Homo sapiens: one gene and its partners. The protein of the gene in region 2 interacts with the protein of the main gene of each other region in a pairwise test. Each region holds a gene or a part of one and is shown on either strand. Other genes may lie near its edges.

What was found. Proteins that work in one complex are often made in the same cells at the same time.
Region 1: the proteins of ZNF510 (region 2) and PTPRJ interact in a two-hybrid assay, tested with the Homo sapiens proteins (one large-scale study listed by BioGRID and IntAct).
Region 3: the proteins of ZNF510 (region 2) and ODC1 interact in a two-hybrid assay, tested with the Homo sapiens proteins (one large-scale study listed by BioGRID and IntAct).
Region 4: the proteins of ZNF510 (region 2) and DLC1 interact in a two-hybrid assay, tested with the Homo sapiens proteins (one large-scale study listed by BioGRID and IntAct).

What each region holds. Positions count from the first base shown.
Region 1 is NC_000011.10:48,133,218-48,138,208, forward strand, and holds part of PTPRJ (receptor-type tyrosine-protein phosphatase eta isoform 1 precursor), read left to right. Parts: intron 1-2,821; coding exon 2,822-3,079; intron 3,080-3,785; coding exon 3,786-4,064; intron 4,065-4,991. UniProt on the Homo sapiens protein: Tyrosine phosphatase which dephosphorylates or contributes to the dephosphorylation of CTNND1, FLT3, PDGFRB, MET, KDR, LYN, SRC, MAPK1, MAPK3, EGFR, TJP1, OCLN, PIK3R1 and PIK3R2. Plays a role in cell adhesion, migration, proliferation and differentiation.
Region 2 is NC_000009.12:96,774,363-96,779,914, reverse strand, and holds the start of ZNF510 (zinc finger protein 510), read left to right. Parts: upstream 1-1,827; 5' UTR 1,828-1,881; exon of another isoform or gene 1,882-2,333; intron 2,334-3,669; 5' UTR 3,670-3,845; coding exon 3,846-3,915; intron 3,916-5,068; coding exon 5,069-5,127; intron 5,128-5,552. UniProt on the Homo sapiens protein: May be involved in transcriptional regulation.
Region 3 is NC_000002.12:10,441,748-10,446,168, forward strand, and holds part of ODC1 (ornithine decarboxylase), read right to left. Parts: intron 3,518-4,421; 5' UTR 3,408-3,517; intron 3,303-3,407; 5' UTR 3,286-3,302; coding exon 3,184-3,285; intron 2,901-3,183; coding exon 2,727-2,900; intron 2,521-2,726; coding exon 2,348-2,520; intron 2,090-2,347; coding exon 1,955-2,089; intron 1,825-1,954; coding exon 1,743-1,824; intron 1,567-1,742; coding exon 1,483-1,566; intron 428-1,482; coding exon 265-427; intron 183-264; coding exon 70-182; intron 1-69. UniProt on the Homo sapiens protein: Catalyzes the first and rate-limiting step of polyamine biosynthesis that converts ornithine into putrescine, which is the precursor for the polyamines, spermidine and spermine.
Region 4 is NC_000008.11:13,084,202-13,089,192, reverse strand, and holds part of DLC1 (rho GTPase-activating protein 7), read left to right. Parts: intron 1-488; coding exon 489-706; intron 707-2,729; coding exon 2,730-2,903; intron 2,904-3,261; coding exon 3,262-3,382; 3' UTR 3,383-4,991. UniProt on the Homo sapiens protein: Functions as a GTPase-activating protein for the small GTPases RHOA, RHOB, RHOC and CDC42, terminating their downstream signaling.

The sequences.
Region 1 (4,991 bases), on a different chromosome or scaffold from region 2:
CCTGTGTCTGCTGTCTAAGACCAAGTGCTTAACCACCATGTAGATTGACACTTTGATGTGGTACAGCAGTAAAGTTTAGTATTAGTGAGGAGAGGGCATCTCTTTTACTATAGTTTATTGTGAATATTCTTTCCTCTTAATATCAGTATTTCTACAGGGTAATTTTAACACCTGCCTGGAATTGCATTGTCTCAAAGGACCCGTTTCATTCAATGGTCCCATTGAATGAAAGTCAAGAAGGCTTGCTATAAGATCTAAACTCTTAGGGGGGTTACCTTTCTATTATCAAATAACCTTTATTGTTATTGGAAAAAGTCAGCTTAACAGCATTAAAAGCAATTTCAAAAAAAGGAAACGAATACCATATGATCCAGTAATTCCAGTCCTATGTATATCTCCAAAAGAATTGAAAACAGGCCCCTGGACAGTTATTTGTACATCAGTGTTCATAGTAGTAGCATTGTTCACAGTAGCCAAAGGTGGACCCAAGATCCCATCAACAAATGAATGGATAGATAAAATGTGGTTCATCCATACAACAAAATACTATTCAGCCATAAGAAAGAAAGAAATTCTGATTTATGGTACAACATGGATGGATCTTGAGGACATTATGCTAAGTGAAGCCAGACACAGAAGGACAAATACTGGATGATTCCACTTACATGAGTACCTAGATTAGGCAACTTAATATTCTACAGAAATTAGAATAGAGGTTACCAGGGGCTGTTCAGAGGAGGGAGTGGGCATTATTGTTTAATGGCTACAGTTTATGCTGGGGATAATGACAGTGTTTTGGGTACAGGTAGTGGTGATAGTTACACAACATTGTGAATATTGATGATACCGAATTGTACACTGACAAATGGTTAAGATGATAAATATTATGGTATGTATGTTTTACCACAATAAAAATGAAAAGGAACAAATATCTCTATTTTTCTAACCCAACTGAATTCCTTTTCTCTCTGTGTCCACAGTCATACATTTTGCTTGTATACTGTAATTATTATACAAATACTTTTATTTTGTATTTGAATTTCTTTTTACTCAGTCTATACCACAACTTTCCCCTATAGTTAGCATGGCCTTCATATTTTTAGTGGCTAAAGAGTATTTCATCATGCAGCCAGATCACAGTGCCCACAGCCCTCCCCATGTTATTGAATATTTAGGTTGTTTCTAGGTTTTTATGTTTATAGACAAAGGCTGCCTTTCATGGGCTTTTGTCTGTGGAATCCCTTTGACATCAGGAATCTGCTGGTAGGAAACAAAGGCTCCTCCCAGTGGCTTCTCTGTAAGGAGAATCCACTTAAAATTAAAAAAAAAATTAATTTTGGAGTAGATAGTACGTAAACATGGCACAATTTTTTTTGTTTTTTGGACAAGGTGTTTGCAGTGAAAGCATTTCCCTTTTTTGTCCCCTACCTGCCCATTTCCTCTCCCTGGAGGTGACGTTTGTTGCCAGGTAAAGAGAGACAGGGTTGAAAGCCGCGGTAGAAAATAGGCCCAGCCTCCGCGGTTACTTCCGGGCCTCTATGTAGGCATCCCTGGTGCAGGTGGCTGAGTGGGCAGCGGGAGATGATCGGAGGATGGGCTCCTGTGGGAGATTCCATTTCTGACTCTGCTCTGAAGGTGCAGGGTGTGCCTGTTTTCTTCCCTTCCTCATCCGTCCTCAAATGCTGCAACTTAGTAAAGGTCAGCTCTCCATTTCAGTTTTCCTCTTTGGTATGTAAGGCTGTGTCACGGGAAGATGTTTCCTTCTGAGTGACTGATTTAAAAAACACAACAAAACAAAAAAACCTCTTTATTGAGATATAATATACATACCGAAAAGGGATGTATCCTCAGCACATAGCTTCATGAACTTTTACAAACTGAACACATCTTGTTACCAGCACCCATATAAAAAAACTGAATGTGATTTCCACTTCAGATGACCCCTTGAAGGGCTTTTTTTTTTTTTTTTTTTTTGAGATGGAGTTTCGCTCTTGTTGCCCAGGCTGGAGTGCGATGGCGCGATCTTGGCTCACTGCAACCTCTGCCTTCCGGGTTCAAGTGATTCTCCTGCCTCAGCCTCCCAAGTAGCTGGGACTACAGGCATGCACCACCACGCCCGGCTAATTTTGTACTTTTTTTGATAGAGACGGGGTTTCTCCATGCTGGTCAGGCTGGTCTCAAACTCCCGACTTCAGGTGATCCGCCTGCCTTGGCTGCCCAAAGTGCTGGGATTACAGGCGTGATCCACCGCGCCTGGCCTTTTTTTTTTTTTTTTTTTTTTTGAGACAGAGCCTCATTCTGTCGCCCAGGCTGGAGTGCAGTGGTGTGATATCGGCTCACTGCAACCTCTGCCTTCTGGGTTCAAGCGACTCTTGTGCCCCAGCCTCCCGAGTAGCTGGGATTACAGGCGTGTACCACCACACCCAACTAATTTTTGTATTTTTAGTAGAGATGGGTTTTCACCATGTTGGCCAGGCTAGTCTCGAACCTCTGACCTCAAGTGATCCATCTCGGCTTCCCAAAATGTTGGGATTACAGGCATGAGCCATTGCACCCAGCCTAAGGGCTCATTTTTAAGACAACAACAAAAAACTGGAGAACTGGTAAGATAAACTGGGAAGTTCATGTGCGTCACAGAAGAGCTGAAATTCTTGAGAGCACTGAGTGTGTGCATTTCTCAGCTCGATTTTGGAGTGTGCCTTTTGTGAACTCATTAGAAAGCGTAATGGCAAAAGAGCAGGTCCTCTCGACAGCACTTGGAGAGGAAGCTGGGCGTCATGATAGTAACAGTTTTCCCTTCTCCTTCCTTTCTTCTGAGCAGTTCCCAGTGCAGTGTTTGACATCCACGTGGTCTACGTCACCACCACGGAGATGTGGCTGGACTGGAAGAGCCCTGACGGTGCTTCCGAGTATGTCTACCATTTAGTCATAGAGTCCAAGCATGGCTCTAACCACACAAGCACGTATGACAAAGCGATTACTCTCCAGGGCCTGATTCCGGGCACCTTATATAACATCACCATCTCTCCAGAAGTGGACCACGTCTGGGGGGACCCCAACTCCACTGCACAGTACACACGTAAGTCTCTTAGGATGCCCTTCTAAGGAACAGCCTCTCTAACTGTCTCTTGGAGGAGGCACTGGTTAAATGATGGCCAGTGTGCTTCTGGGATCCAGGTTGACTCTGAAACTGCTGAAGTTGAAAACATTGGTCTCAGCAATGGTTCTGCTGTCACCATGGGGCACTGTTCTTCAAGCTATGTGAACTTAGAATTGTCATTAGAAGGAAGAAATGATTCCTTGGGAATGGTGACTGAAATGGTTCTAGTCATTCCTTGAGAATACAGAGTAGAGAAGGGTCACCTTGTCATGTTGGTATTGGAAGATACTGCCCAGATGAGGAGCTTCGCCTGCAACAGTTAGGGAGGTGTTTTGCGAATATTTGAATTAAATACATGGTAAAGATGTTAGTTTGTAATATGTTTTTAGTATATTTTTCTCCATCTATTAGATTTAAAAAACAGATTAGAAATTAAATGTTAAAAATATATTTGAAATAAACTTGAAGTATTAAAAGAAGCCTAAATTAAACTTCTTTTGAGACTTAATCTGTATAATTATTTTCTTGATGTGTTTTTGGGAAGTTTTCCATCTTTTGAGCCAGCAAATACTAGTTTTATTCATTCTTTCTAAAACGAGCCAGGCTATTTTTGGATATAGTAAATAGTCCTGGAATTCTACTTAATCTGTGCTTTTACATGAATTGCCTTTTTTTTAAAATCAAGGGCCCAGCAATGTGTCCAACATTGATGTAAGTACCAACACCACAGCAGCAACTTTAAGTTGGCAGAACTTTGATGACGCCTCTCCCACGTACTCCTACTGCCTTCTTATTGAGAAGGCTGGAAATTCCAGCAACGCAACACAAGTAGTCACGGACATTGGAATTACTGACGCTACAGTCACTGAATTAATACCTGGCTCATCATACACAGTGGAGATCTTTGCACAAGTAGGGGATGGGATCAAGTCACTGGAACCTGGCCGGAAGTCATTCTGTACAGGTGAGTGTAGCCCCAACTGCCTCTTGGACTCCTCCCTGAGTGGTGCTGACCTTGCAGGTCAGTCCTCCCAAGTCTGTAGTTTGTCTGGTTTTGTGTGATGTGCAGTGATGGACATTGAGCTTTCCGAGGCATCCTGTTAGCTTATCGGTGCTGTCTCGATGCCCTCATCATTTCTGCATTCAATAAATATTTATTGAGCATATACCATATGCCAGTCAAGTCCTTGCCTTCTTGGAACTTTTCGAAGGAGGAAGTGGGATGTTTACCTAGAGTGCTCAGGAAAGGCCTCAATGACAAGGTGACTTTTGAGCAAAGATCTGAATGAAGGGAAGGAGCCAGCCATGTGGATATCAGGGCATGAGAACATTACAGGCAGAGGCCTGTGCAGAGGGGCCTGTGCAGCATCACCACTGTATCTGGAGGCTGGAGGAAGAGCAGGAGGCAAGGGTGGGAGGAGTGGACCCGCAGGAACAGGAGGATATAGGTGGGAGGTGAGGCCTGAGTGGGGCTGAGCCAGGATGTGGATGATATCTGGCATTGGTTTGTCTTTTGTGCTGGAGAAGATGAAAAGTTTATTGAAATGATGCCCAGCCTTTGCATCCTTCTTGATCCTCACCTATCTCACAACTGAAAATGTGTGATAAAGAGAAGAGCCCTCTGTGTAATTGAGGATGCTTTCAGGGCAGCCCAGGAAAGGCTTTGCAGACAGTGGTGGGCACTTCTGCTCACAGTGCTGACTGTGGCACCTTTATCACTCAGCACCCGTGCACTACTCATTTTCTGCCCTTCTCGCTCCTACCTCTTCCCTTTTTAGCCCAGGCCATTCAGATATGTTCAGGCTGATTTGGAAGTGATGGTCTCATGGGATCAGCCTCCCTGGTAGTATAGGAGCTCCAGCCTTGATGGCCTCTGGCTTTTCAGTGGTGA
Region 2 (5,552 bases):
ATTGTTGAATGAATCCTTGTGAAAATTATTGATTGTAATGTTAGTGCCATGGATATGTCCTTTGTCCCAGCACCTATCTCATTGTCCTAACAAGGTTACTGAAGGTTCTCTTTCCACTGCTTTAAAAGCCAGCTGATACATACTACATTCTTTCTTTTTCATATAGTTGAACTTTTACTGCACCAGGATAAATTTTTAAATATTTAGTGATAGTATACATAGTAAATATAGAGATATTGCTATGCATTTTCAATTCTTTTCTGATCATTACCATAAGTTTTTATTAGAATGAAAATTGGAATAGTTCCTTTAGGAAAACAGGCAAAATATATAAATGTCAAAAAAAGAAAATATATACTTAGAAAACATAGATGATTAGAATTTTTAAAAACAAATGTTAGTCTTTTCCTCCAGTATCTATTAAAGTGTTTTTCAGTGTCAACAGTAAAATTTTATACCTTGATTCATATATACTGCACTAGTTTACTGTTGCCATTAATCTTTTTTCTTGCTAATCAAAACTTATCATTGCCATATAAAATAACCTGTTAGAAAGTATCAACCGTGTGTGTGTGAGTGTATGTGTGTTACTAAAAAGAGTGTCATAAAATACTGTGCTGAGAGGTTCCTAATTTGGTTCCTGATTTCAGAAGCATACCACATAAGATTTAAGCAAGCTCATCTCTAGGAGATGCATAATTTGTGGATAACGGTTTTCTTAGTTGGGATTGTGTGTACTTCAGGTATTATGTAATGCTGAACAGCTTACTTGCTTTTTCTTTTTTTCCCCCCAGAGATAAACTGAGGATCACAAATATTATTCTTTTATGTTAATAATGGTTTCCATTTTCTAGTATTTGTTACATTTTACGGCTTTATTCACAAAGCTGTTTATGTATTTTTGTGGCAGCTCTAAGTTAAAAGGCACACTTGTAACATTACAGTCCCAATTTTCCCTTTATCAACTTTATATTATAAAATTTTCCAACACATAGTCAATAAGCATGTCCATATTCTAGAAGTAGATATTCTTAACATTTTGCCATACTTCCCATTTCTAATTATTTTTTAAAAAGAACTTACAAACGGGCCGGGAGTGGTAGCTCACGCCTGTATACCCAGCACTTTGGGAGGCCAAGGCAGGCGGATCACTTGAGGTGAGGAGTTCGAGACCAGCCTGGCCAACATGGTGAAACCCCGTCTCTACTAAAAATACAAAAATTAGCTGGGCGTAGTGGCGGGCGCCTGTAGTCCCAGCTACTTGGGAGGCTGAGGCAGGAGAATCGCTTGAACCCGGGAGGCGGAGGTTGCAGTTAGCCGAGATCGCGCCACTGCACTCCAGCCTGGGCGACAGAGTAAGACTCCGTCTCAAAAAAAAAAAAAAAAACCAAAAAACCCAAAAACTTACAAACATAATACAATCCTAAATACTTACATAGACATCTCTTTATGAATAAGCAAGATTACCTACATAATCCCAATGCTGCCACAATTAATTAATAATTCTAATTTCCAGTCCGTATACAAATTTTCCCAATTGTTTTCAAACGTCTTCCGCGGCTCTTGCTTTCTGTAACCACACGCTGCATTTGCTGTTATGTCATCAAGTCTAACCCACAACCTCTGGGGCTCTGACAGAACCCGGGCTCCAGTTATCAGGACGGTCCATGTTATTACGCCATAAATCTTGGGGGAAAAACAAACAAAAAAACACTGACAGCTGGCGCCGTACTGCATGTGAAACGTAGTCTTGCATGTTATGGGTTACCGCGCAGCATGCTGGGAACGGATATGCGCGTTTTCGTCTGCGCATGTGCAGTCAACCCCACTTTCCGGCTTCTCCCTGTTAGTGTTTGCTGGTGCAGAGGGTTCGCAGCTCAGGTGAGAGCGCCGGGCCTCCACGCGGATTGCGGACCTGCAGGGAGGGATGTGCTAGTGTCCAGGGGGCGGGAACGCGACGTCCCGGGAACTCCCCCAAAGCAGGCCGTCGCTCCCTGTGCCTCGGCCGGCCCGGGACCTCAGCCTGAGAAGGGCCGGTGGGGGCGGGCTCCGGGGGCGTTAGGTGGGGCTGAGTCCTAGTTGGAAGATGCTCGGTGCGGGCCGAGGTATGGGCGCCAGAATGCAGCCAGGCGTCGGAAAACGCGGTGCTGGCTTCAGGAGGGGAATGCGCGTTTATTGTATTGACCATGAACCTGCCACAAAGCGCGTACAGCCCGTGGGTCTGCGGTGAGAGGCCGAGCCTAGGAGCTAGAAGGACCTCGTGAATTTTGGCTCTGTCACTTGAGCGTTTGAAAATGAGGATATTAGTAAAAACTGCTTTGTGTCGTTCAGAGGTAAGCCATCCCCTGTAAAGCATTTAGCTAAGCGCTAGTTACTAAGCAGCATGTAAATGTTGATTCCCGTTATATTTGGAAGACACTTTGTTCTTTTCATGTAGTATTTCGTTTAATTCTCACAACCACCCTATTTATATCATTAAAAATGAAGAAGGAGGAGTGAAAAGATAGAGCCAAGCTCACAAAGGATGAGAGAGCTAGGATGTCAATACATAAACACTTTACTCCCCGAATCAGGCTGTTTGTAATGGCCTACCTACCTAACCCAGCATTGCAGCCTTCACAGCACTGAGTGATTGTCCCCAAAACCCCAGGACAATGATTGTGAAGTCAGTGTGGACAGAATCTTACTATGTGGCAAGTGTATTTGTTGTGGGGTTTCTGGGATGTCTCCAGAGCCTCTGGGTTAGACTGAGGCCCCTGCCACCTCCTGTGCTGTCCCTCCTGTCTCTGTCTTTAGAAGTCAGTCTGATATTCTAGGGCAGTGAAGATGAGTCACATACGTAATTTTAAATGTTAAACTAGTAGCTACATGAAAATCTAAAACATGAAATTAATTTTAAGAACATACTGTGGTTTTCTCAGTGTATCCAAAATGTTATTTCAACATGTGGTCCTAGCCACATTTCCAGTGCTCAGTAGTTGATGTGATTGGAGGCTGTAGTCATGGATAGCAGGGTTCTAATTAATGCCAAGAGAATCAGGTTTAAGGCCTTAGGTCACTTCTTCACCAGGAGGATTTTGCTCCCTAGGGAACTTTGGAAATGTTGGAGACTTTTTTGGTGGGGGGAGAGGGGACTGAGTTTCTCTCTGTCGCCCAGGCTGGAGGGCAGTGGTGTGATCTTGGCTCACTGCAACCTCCACCTCCCAGGTTCAACTGATTCTCCTGCCCCAGCCTCCCAGCTTGTAATCTCAGCTGGAATTACAAGCATGCATGGCCATGCCCAGCTAATTTTTTGTATTTTTAGTAGAGGTGGGGTTTCACCATATTGGCCAGGCTTATCTTGAACTCCTGACCTCAGGTGATCCACCTGCCTTGGCCTCCCACAGTCCTGGGATTACAGGCGTGAGCCACCACGCCCGGCCTGGAGACGTTTCTGATTGTCACAACAGGGAGAAGGGGTGTCCTAGTGTCTAGTGCATGTTTAGAAATGCTCTTAAACATCCTGCAATGCACAGGACCACTCCTTATGTCAGAGGATTATCCAGCCCAAAATGGAAGTTGTGCTGACGTGAAGAACACTGTTTTCCATGAAAGTTTCAACTAAAATAAATTTGTTACCCAGGCATCAGCCCCAGCTTCTCTGGAGCAAAGCAGCTCTTTATGTTGCAGGAAGGAGGGAGCCCCAGGAACAGGAGTCCCACCGAAGAACTGCTCTCTGACAGAACAGAGACCTCCTCACCAGGGCTTCCAAACAGATGCAGAAGAACCCAGAAAGGAGCAGGTCTTGATTTGCCCAACCAGCGGCACTTCTTCATCCCCTTGCCCAGAGAGCACCAGACTTGGTGATGTCGCCACATCCAGAAGCCATCACAGATTGTGTGACACTGAACACTGTGGGCCAACTTGCAGAAGGTGGTAAGCTGGGGTTGAGAGGCGTGGGTGACTGTCAGACTGCACAGGAAAAGCCACATTACTGGAGGGCTTTTCTCCATGGTCTCCAAGGAAGGCATAACCAGCCAGGGCTGAGGAAATTGTCTCTAATCCTCCTCATAGAGCCCCCATTTTCTTCATTCTTGCCTCACTCTTTCCAGATTCTGAGTCACTCTCACACAACATCCATCACATGTAGCATCTAGAAATTTACTAAGGTTGCCTCTATCCTGAACCTGTAGAATCACAAAAATGATAATACAGGAAAGGATTTCTATTTCTGACTCTTAAAACCTTAAAAAGTATTGAACCTAGGATGAACAGTTTGTCCATGGTCACTCAGGACAGAGCTTGGAGCAAAGCACAGTGCTGTTCACTCTGTCACAGGTGAGTCACCAGAAGTGTCTTATCGAAAGTCTTTTGAGAAACTATAAGTTAGAACAAAAATATTTTAAAATAGTCTTTCAGCATCTCCTTTTTTTCAGTTTTGTGTTTTCTATTGGTGTAAATAATATTAACAGAATATTAATGTTAATTCTGTTTAAGTTGTTAGTCAAAGAAGACATACATTTTAAATAAATCAATAGGAAAATAGTCTACAATCGCCTGATGAAAAACAGCAAGGGGCCAGGCCTGGTGGCTCACCCCTGCAATCCCAGCATTTTGGGAGGCCAAGGCGGGCAGATTGCTTGAGGTCAGGAGTTCGAGACCAGCCTAAGCTACATGGTGAAACCCCATTTCTACAAAAAATACAAAAATTAGCTGGGTGTAGTGGTGGGTGCCTTTGGTCCCAGCAACTCAGGAGGCTGAGACGGGAGAATTGCATGAACCCAGGAGGCAGAAGTTGCAGTGAACTGAGATCACACCGCTGCACTCCAGCCTGGGCAACAGAGCCAGATCCTGTCTCAAAAAAAAAAAACAAAAAAACACACACACACAGCAAGGGTTCATCCACATGATCATATTAAAGATGCACATATTCAGGAGGTGCTTTCTCTGTAGTGCTGCTTGTCCCTTCTCAAAGGTCAAAGGAACATTTTTTGTAGAGAGGCCTTTTTCCCCAGCTGGTGTGATGACATTGGTAGGCAGGTAAGATGGAGGCTGCCCAGATCTCTCATGACTCCTTCCTCACCCCCAGGTTATCCTTTACGGTTCTCCACACTCTTTCAGGAGCAGCAGAAAATGAACATATCTCAGGTGAGTTAATTACTAATACCTTTTTCATCATGGATTTCATAGGTGTTTAAGGGTCCACATATTAATATGGAAATGTAGAAATGGATCAAAATCATTCAAGGAATATATAGAAAAGCAGGGCAGTAGCACAGCAGAATTGGCATGTGGAAAGATGGAGGTCGCCTGATGTTACAGATTTTCCAAAATGGAACTGCAGTTTTCATTCTTTCTGATAGCCATGGCAGAGAGCCAGACAGACAGTATTTTTTTTACAGATTTGCATTGATGAGAAGCTTAAAACCAGGCTGATTCCTCATGGAATCTAAAGTTATCAAAGTCAGGGAAAATGTCTTTGTTGGTCTTCATGTGTCAGTGCAAATCTTTCTCATAACAGCCTTGAAATAAATGCAGTATGTTGCTTCTGCTTTTTCCTCAGTGGAAGTAGA
Region 3 (4,421 bases), on a different chromosome or scaffold from region 2:
AGTACTACTTAATTACACGTGTTGTGACCAGTCCTCTTAATTGTTTTATACAGTATGCTCAGAAATTACCTTTTGCAGAAGGGGCTTTACATGTGCGTGGTCATAGAGTATGCAATTAAATGATCCATAGACGCCATCATTCACATAATACATAAAGGTCTGCTCACTCGACTCATCTTCGTCTAGAAAGGCAGATCAACAATCTTAATGACTTTTTGCATCAGCTTTCAGTTATACATGAAGTGATTCGTCCTTTATACATACCATCAGAGCCCGTCTGTTCCTTTAATACAATTTTCTTGGCAATGATATTAACTGCAAGCGTGAAAGCTGATGCAACATAGTATCTGCCGGGCTCAGCTATGATTCTCACTCCAGAGTCTGACGGAAAGTATTTGTCCAACGCTGGGTTGATTACGCCGGTGATCTAAGAGAGTGAAACAGAAAAGAAAGAGCAGCCTTCATTGTGGGAAATTCACATGGGGGAGTAACATCACAGGGCCTTGTGACATGACATCATGAGACCAGGCATCAACAGACAGGTTTATCATTAAAGTAACAAAAGCAAAAAAACATCAACATCTCCCTGAAAACCAGGCTACATATCCCAGGTGGCTCGTTTTCATTCCCCTCCAGGCACCCTATCTCCTTTAGGATGTTATGGGTATGATTTTTATCAAAGAACAGTACGCAACTAACTACTACCTAGGAAGGCATCAAGATGTCAAAACATTTTAACAAATACATGCCAACAGGATAAAAATCCTATTCTGCCTACGTCATGATTTTAACAAACCATGTGGATATATTTTATAAATTCAAGCACCAATATAATGGCTTAACTTCCTAAGTGACTAAACATTTCAAGTATTTTAAGGAGAGGAAGCATAGGTCTAGCAAAGCACATTTGGGGTGATGATGTGCTACAGTCAGCATATTCTCTAGGAAGCCCACAGCAACATGCTTTTTCTTTTTTTTTTTTGAGACAGGGTCTCACTCTGTAGCCCAGGCTGAGTGCAGTGGCATGATCATGGCTCACTGCAGCCTCAACCTCCTGGGCTCAAGTGATCCTCCCACCTCAGCCTTCCAAGTAGCTGGGATTACAGGTGCCCGCCACCACACCAGGCTAATTTTAAAATTTTTTTTGTAGAGATGGGGTCTCACTGTGTTGCCCAGGCTGGTCTCAAACTCCTGGGCTCAAGTGATCCTACCACCTTGGCCTCCCCAAGTGCTGGATTACAGGTGTGAGCCATGATTTCCAATGTAACCAATTATCCAAGACTTCTGGGAAAGCTGATTCACACTTTAGAAAACCAAATGGTATCAAGTGTAATGTCAGACAGCACAAAGAAATCACTCAAAATATCACACCAAGACACTTCAGCCCATTGTGGTATTAGTTAAGACACTTAAATTTTGAAATATTCCAAAAAGGAATTTATTAGAACGGCTACTGAGTATTACAGTTTTGTTCTAAATTACCTCTTCAAATTTAAGTTTCACATCCTCAGATCCAGGAAAGCCACCGCCAATATCAAGCAGATACATGCTGAAACCAACCTCAGCCTAGAATCAAGAAAATAAGTCAGCCAGATCCACAGCTAATAACAAAAATGTATGCAGCAGATAGGCTGAAACCCATGTAATACAGAACCAACTGCCATAAAAAGTTAACTCTAGAATTAAGACTAGTTATTGTCAGTTGTGTCCCGCCCTTCCCTAACAGGGTCACGTATACTCACCCCCATGTCAAAAACACAGCGGGCATCAGAGATTGCCTGCACGAAGGTCTCAGGATCGGTACAGCCGCTTCCTACATGGAAGCTGGGGTAAAATAAAGAGACGAGACACTGTGTCTTAGTATTTCTTAAAATAATAGCAAACACTAGGAGAAAGCCTGTAAAACTCAAACTGTTCAATGTCTTGACCTCTAGCTATCCCACCAAAATCTCACCTGACACCAACAACATCGATATTTAGCTCTTTCGCCCGTTCCAAAAGGAGCCTGCTGGTTCTGAGCGTGGCACCGAATTTCACACTGAGACGACAGACTGCTTTGGAATCATCAGTGGCAATCCGCAAAACCAACCTACAAGCAAGGAAAGTGCAGCAAATGTCTCATGATAGATGTTCACTTATAGCCACAATTAAAATAAAAACAATCCTGTTCTAAATACTGTCGCTGATATATTCTGTAGTTTGAGTCCCAGGCTTCATGACTCAATGGGGGTTTCAACTACTTTCTACTAAAGTATAGAAATATAATAATCAGAAATTTAAGTTTGTTTGATAAGAATCCACATATCTTATGCTCCCGATCTTGCCCTCAGATGGGGGAATAACTCACTTTGCTTTGGGATGTGCTCTGGCAACTTTCATCAACTCAACTTCACTATCAAAAGTCATCATCTGGACTCCATTATTAGCAGCATACTTAATTTGAGATACTTGTTTACAAGGATTTGCATAGATAATCCTCTCTGGAGGCACCCCCAGACTCTGCACCAACTGTATTTCAGTCTGAAAAAGAAGAGTGGTGTCATGCTATCCATATGTGGCTTAACACGTGGAATAAACAGAAAAGCATGGGAAGTTGTCATGTACCCCCCCGCCCCATTTGCCTTTAGTGAGCATTTATTGCCCAAAAAACACAACTTGTATCTGCCTCGTGGGGAATACCAGGCCCATTTTATACAACGCTTTTGAGGCCTGCTGCTATCGCTTACCTTGCTAGCACAGTCAAATCCTGTCCCGGTAGCAGCAAGGGTCTTCACGATGGCTTTGCTATCATTACATTTGACTGCATAAAAGGGGGTGACACGAGGGAGAGCTTTTAACCACCTCAGATGTTTCTTTAGAATGTCTCCCAGGTCTGCCACATAGAAGGCATCCTTATCATCCTGAAACAAGAGTGGTCACAGGTGACTCACTAGCAGCCTCACCACACACCACACCAATAGCCAGCGACCTTCATTCCCATCAGTCACAATGAATCCTGCTCTTTTGAGTCTAGCCACTGATATGAGTATCACCATTATCACTATTAATTTACCACCAGTGAATTAATTTCTACATTCCATAACAAGACATGTAAGCCTCATTGCTCTTCCTTAGACCTTGCCAAAGTTTTCCACTTGCCTGGCACTCTCAGCTGCACTGCCAGCATGGGCCTCATATACTTACAGAAGAAGAAACTTCATTAATTTTCTGGTCCAGAATGTCCTTGGCAGTAAAACCTTCATCGAGGAAGTGGCAGTCAAACTCTTCATTACCAAAGTTGTTCATGATTTCTTGATGTTCCTCTGAAATGCAACAAAATGCAAATAGAGTGGAGAAATTCACTTAGAAGCCTTAGCAATACAATTCTTAAGATTAACCTGCAACATAAATGTAAACTGAATACTTACATGGAAAACTAAGAGATGGAATTGAAAGAAATATTTCCAGCTTCTCACAAAGGCAACTCTCCAGGAATTCCAAATCCCTCTGCGTGTGCCCTTGGAACAGCAGTGACAATCTGAGAAATAAAATAGGGAATTTGCTGTCTACCTTAGGAACACATCGAGTTGAAGATGGGGCACTGGCTGAGCACACGCAGAGCTAATCATGCCCCGGATATGAACCACTCACTGGCCTGGTCATCCTAATTATTACTAGGCATAAGGTACATGATTCCATAAACCTTGGCAGTATAAGGACACAACAAAAAATACCAGGTTTTTCCAAGGCAGCACACTAAGCATTTCAAATATTTGTACCAAAAAAATCTAGCATGCAAGTTTCAGAAGCTTATCTGCACTTAGCTCACTGATATGGAAAAAAGTCTTATAATGGTCTGATTTATTTCAGAGCAGTTTCAGTTCCTTAGAAACTTAAAATAGCATTATAGACTTTTTTATTTTTTTTGAGACAGAGTCTCACGCTGTCACCCAGGCTGGAGTGCAGCGGTGCAATCTTGGCTCACTGCAACCTCTGCCTCCCGGGTTCAAGCGATTCTCCTGCCTCAGCCTCCCCAGCAGCTGGGATTACAGGCGCCTGCCACCATGCCCGGCTAATTTTTGTGTTTTTAGTAGAGACAGGATTTCACCACGTTGTCCAGGTGGGTCTCAAACTCCTGACCCCAGGTGATCCACCCGCCTCGGTCTTCCAAAGTGCTGGGATTACATTATAGCCTTTATACACAGCCATACAAACATTTCCTACTTCCACTAAGTCTTAGAATGATTTTTACTGACCAACAGGCATCATGGAAATGTCTGGAGCATTTGAGATTTTACGAGTTAATTTTCATGTATTAGCTGGGTATATACTTCTTAAAAACTGTAATCTTCAAGTCAACTTATCACATTGTATTACAGTTGCTGTTACCTGATCAGAATTCAGTATTTTTTTTTTTTTTTTTTGAGACAGAGTTTTACTCT
Region 4 (4,991 bases), on a different chromosome or scaffold from region 2:
GTGCCTCCTAGGTTCAAGTGATTCTCCTTCCTCAGCCTCCTGAGTAGCTGGACTTACAGGTGCCTGCCACCACGCCTGGCTAATTTCCATATTTTTAGTAGAGACAGGGTTTCACCATGTTGGCCAGGCTGGTCTTGAACTCCTGACCTCAGATGATCCACCCGCCTCGGCTTCCCAAAGTGCTGGGATTACAGGAATGAGCCACTGCACCCGGCTCAAATGTCATCATTTTGACTCGAGTTGACAACAGCTTTTTTTCACTTTCTGGCTTGCTCTTAAATATGCTTGGGGACAGCAGCCTATTTAAGTCATAGATTTATTAGCCCCCAATATTTCTTTATATACTGATTATATAGTATTATTTATATCATTTAATCAATTAACGTTGATTATATGTAACTAAAATTGTTAGTCTAACTAACAATTCGACTTCAAAAACTAGGTGTGTATGGATTGCCTTGGCACTGAAAAATACATCCTCTTTCCAGGTGAGCGAAGGACCCCCTCTGAGGCTTTGGAGGTCAGTCATTGAAGTCCCTGCTGTGCCAGAGGAAATCTTAAAGCGCCTACTTAAAGAACAGCACCTCTGGGATGTAGACCTGTTGGATTCAAAAGTGATCGAAATTCTGGACAGCCAAACTGAAATTTACCAGTATGTCCAAAACAGTATGGCACCTCATCCTGCTCGAGACTACGTTGTTTTAAGGTGAGCGCTTCCCAGTTGTTTTTTTGTGACAAGGATGACTCCATATATGAACCAAGCCTATATGTCACTGATCTTACAAGATGGTATAATTATTTAAAGTAGAGGCCGGGCATATGGTGGCTCACACCTGTAATCCCAGCACTCTGGGAGGCCAAGGTGGGAGGATCACTTGAGGCCAGCAGTTCAAGACCAGCCTGGGTAATATAGCAAGACCCTATCTCTACAAAAAAATTTTAAAAATCAGCTAGATGTTGTGGTGCATGCCTGTAGTCCTAGCTACTCGGGAGGCCGAGGCAGGAGGATCCCTTGAGCCAGGAGTTTGAGGCCGCAGTGAGCTGTGAGCATGCCACTGTACCGCAGCCTGGGCAACAGAGCAAGACCTTATTTCTGAATAAACAAAACAAAACATATGCTTCCAGAAAAGTAGTGAACACCTTCAAATATGGAAAACAGATCTACATTTATTCTAGCAGTGTGTTCCTCGCTGAGAATGGTCTGAACTCTTTGGTAACTGAGCTCAGAAAGAGAGGCCCCTTCCAATGAATATGCTCATTCGTAGCAGATTTTTGCCCCTTTTAGGATAGATTTTCTTGTCAGAAACAGCTAGTGAATGAATAAGCCAGGAAATAACATTTGAGTCCCAAGGGAGATGTGGTTAAGGCTGATGTATGTGTAATTCATAAATTCTCTGGAGATATTACTGAAAGAAGAATTCCAAAAATCTTTGTGGAAATGTCACATTGGAAGTCCAGACCTTTTCAAACAGCCAGCGCTCCTTTAGGTGTCTGTGTTCCAAGACATTTGTGAAATAGAAAAATGGTTTTAAGCTACACTTCAAATGGGCTCTTTTTTCAAAGAGGAGACTGTCTGAGCACATAAACCCTCTGTAACAACGGCTCTGTACAGAGTTCCTCATTCAGCAGTCCTTGTACAGTGTCTTCGTGCATGTAATGCTGCTCTAACAGAATCTCACAGACCAGGCAATTATAATGAACAGATATTTATTTGGCTCATGGTTCTAAAGGCTGGGAAGTTCAAGATCAAGTAGTTGCATCTGGTTAGTTGGTTGGTTGTTTGATTGATTTGGGGACATGGTTTCATTCTGTCACCAAGGCTAGGGTGCAGTGGCACACTCATGGCTGCTGAAGCCTTCACCTCCCAGGCTCAAGCAATCCTCCCCCCTCAGCCTCCCAAGTAGTTGGGACTGCAGGCATGTGCCATCACACCTGGCTAATTTTTTTGTTTCTGGTAGAGACATGGTGTCACCATATTGTCCAGGCTGGTCTCAAAACTCCTGGGCTCAAGCGATCCTCCTACCTCAACCTCCCAAAGCGCCGGGATTACAGGCATGGGCCACCCACCATGCCTAATGAGGGTCTTTTTGCTGTGTCATCCCATAGTGGAAGGGCAAAGAGAGGGCAAGGGAGAGCAAAAGAGCAAATGTGCAGCCTCAAGCCATTTTTATTTTTATATTTATTTATTTTGAGATGGGGGGGTATCACTTTGTTGCCCAAGTTTGAGTACAGTGGCATGATTACAGCTTAAGCAATCCTACCATCTCAGCCCCCGGAGTAGCTGAGACTACAGGAGCACACCACCATGCCCGGCTAATATTTTTTATTTTTAGTAGAGATGAGGTATCACTATGTTGTCCAGGCTGGTCTTGAACTCCTGAGCTCAAGCAGTCCTCCCTCCCCAGCTTCCCAAAGTGCTGGGATTACAGGCGTGAGCCATGGAACCCAGCCTTAAGCTCTTTTATAATTGGCATTAATCCAGCTCCCATTAGGCCCCACCTCCCAACACTGTTGTATTGGGCATTCACTTTCCATCACATGCTTTTTGGGGAACACATGTACACCATAGCAAGTAGTTTAGAGGATGCCATTTACCTAGGCCTGGGTCACACAGCATGGCCACTGAGCCTGACCCGTCACCACACTGCAAATAGTGAAGAGTGAAGCACGATTTTAAACTTGGCTTCTATGAAATTCCATCATTTCTGCCTCTGGTTTTGTCTCTACAGAACCTGGAGGACTAATTTACCCAAAGGAGCCTGTGCCCTTTTACTAACCTCTGTGGATCACGATCGCGCACCTGTGGTGGGTGTGAGGGTTAATGTGCTCTTGTCCAGGTATTTGATTGAACCCTGTGGGCCAGGAAAATCCAAACTCACCTACATGTGCAGAGTTGACTTAAGGTATGTTCTGATTCTGATTTTTTTATATGGTGAGGGTCATGAAGGAAATTCTGACTTTTTGTCTAATGCAAAGAATGCCTTAAACAAACACGTCATTTTTTCTTGGTGACTTCATGAAGAATGGTGTTTAGAAAGTAGCATTTCATGTTTGTTGGTCTTTCAGCGACCACTTCGTAATTTGGTTCCCTTAGAAAATGTGGTTCTAAAGCAAAGCAAATATGGTAGCTCGGCCATGAATTCAAAGGCATGGGAAATGATAGATTTTATGCATTTGAACTAGCAAACAGATGTTTCTCATTTTATTTCCATGCTTTCTAACTTAAATAATTCATCAGCTTTTCTTTCTTTTCTCTGATAGGGGCCACATGCCAGAATGGTACACAAAATCTTTTGGACATTTGTGTGCAGCTGAAGTTGTAAAGATCCGGGATTCCTTCAGTAACCAGAACACTGAAACCAAAGACACCAAATCTAGGTGATCACTGAAGCAACGCAACCGCTTCCACCACCATGGTGTTTGTTTCTAGAACTTTTGCCAGTCCTTGAAGAATGGGTTCTGTGTCTAATCCTGAAACAAAGAAAACTACAAGCTGGAGTGTAGGAATTGACTATAGCAATTTGATACATTTTTAAAGCTGCTTCCTGTTTGTTGAGGGTCTGTATTCATAGACCTTGACTGGAATATGTAAGACTGTGCAAAAAAAAAAAAAAAATTTATGTGTATTCTTATTCAAATTGCTTCTGAGAAGCAAAACTCTTTAAATACATTATGGAAGATAATGAAGATACTTCATTCTCTTGTGATATCAGTGTATGCGTACCTGTGTCGCTTTATTTGCAGTGTGTTGAGGGACTGGTGTATCCACTGGAATAGTTGGTACTCTTGGATGTGTTTTCTCACCAAGATGAGCAAAGAAAGGTTTGCACAGAGGAGTGTGAATGTGTGTTTGTTGCTGGCTGAATGGCAATAGATGTCTAAGGTGGATTCAGTGTCTGGCACACTGAGACACCTCCAAGAAGGAGATTGATGCATCAGGTTCAGTTTAACCTGGAATATCTGACTACCCCTGAATCCACCCAGAAAGGGGGCCCAACACCCTTGTCCATTTATGGGTATTTTTTTTCGAAGTTATTAAGCATATTCCTTTTCCACGAACCTCTTCTGTACTTTGATTGTAATAGGTTGGCTCTTACACCCATTCCAAATGCAGTTTATTTTTAGACCCGATTGCAAATAGTGATGTAGTTTTAACCAGTATGGATTAGTTCAGGGATGAACTGCTCCCTCTAGCCTTACTGGCTCTGATCCACAGGGTTTTGTTTTGTTTTGTTTTGTTTTTTGTTTAAGTCGAGATATAAAAACTGAACACGATAACACTTACTCTTAAATCAAGCATCAACACTTTTTCCCTGTTAGAATTCTTTGCATTTTTGTGTTTGTAACAGAAACGCCTTAAGACACTATGTTTGGGAATATAGGAAACTATGTGTGTCCCAAGGAAATCCCTGTAAATTTAACTCACCTACAAAAGGCTTTTTCCCCGCCTTTGGTTGTTAACGGCATTCCTGAAAGCCACATGTGTTTATTCATTGGGCTTGTTCTTATCAGCAAATAGGTTTTCTGGTTTTATGACTTTTTGTCTTATTTTATTTTTCCTACATTTCTTTTTTTTTTTTTTTCCTTTAGAATGCCCTGGAAATATATTTAAGTGGTAATGAAAAATAGTAATCATAGTAAAACGCAACAAGAAGAAAACCAACCCAAACCAGTGAAGTTTTTTAGAACCTTTAGAAGGGTGGTCTTTATTCAGGTTTTACTGTAATGGTAAGGATTGACTCAAGAGACAGTATTAGTAAATTTATTGTGTATGGATCAAAAGTGAATAATGTATGAATGAGAGCTGTAAGAAGGATTTTTATTTTGTTATAATTTAGTTACCATTTTCAGTGTTATTTCAAAGGTTCTTTGAAGAATTTTGGGGCAGGGCATCAGATTAGAGTTTTAAAATTTGAGTATTTTGGATATCAGTGTTCCTCATGAAGATATACATGGATATTCAATTTTGATGGCTTCCAGATTTGTAAGAT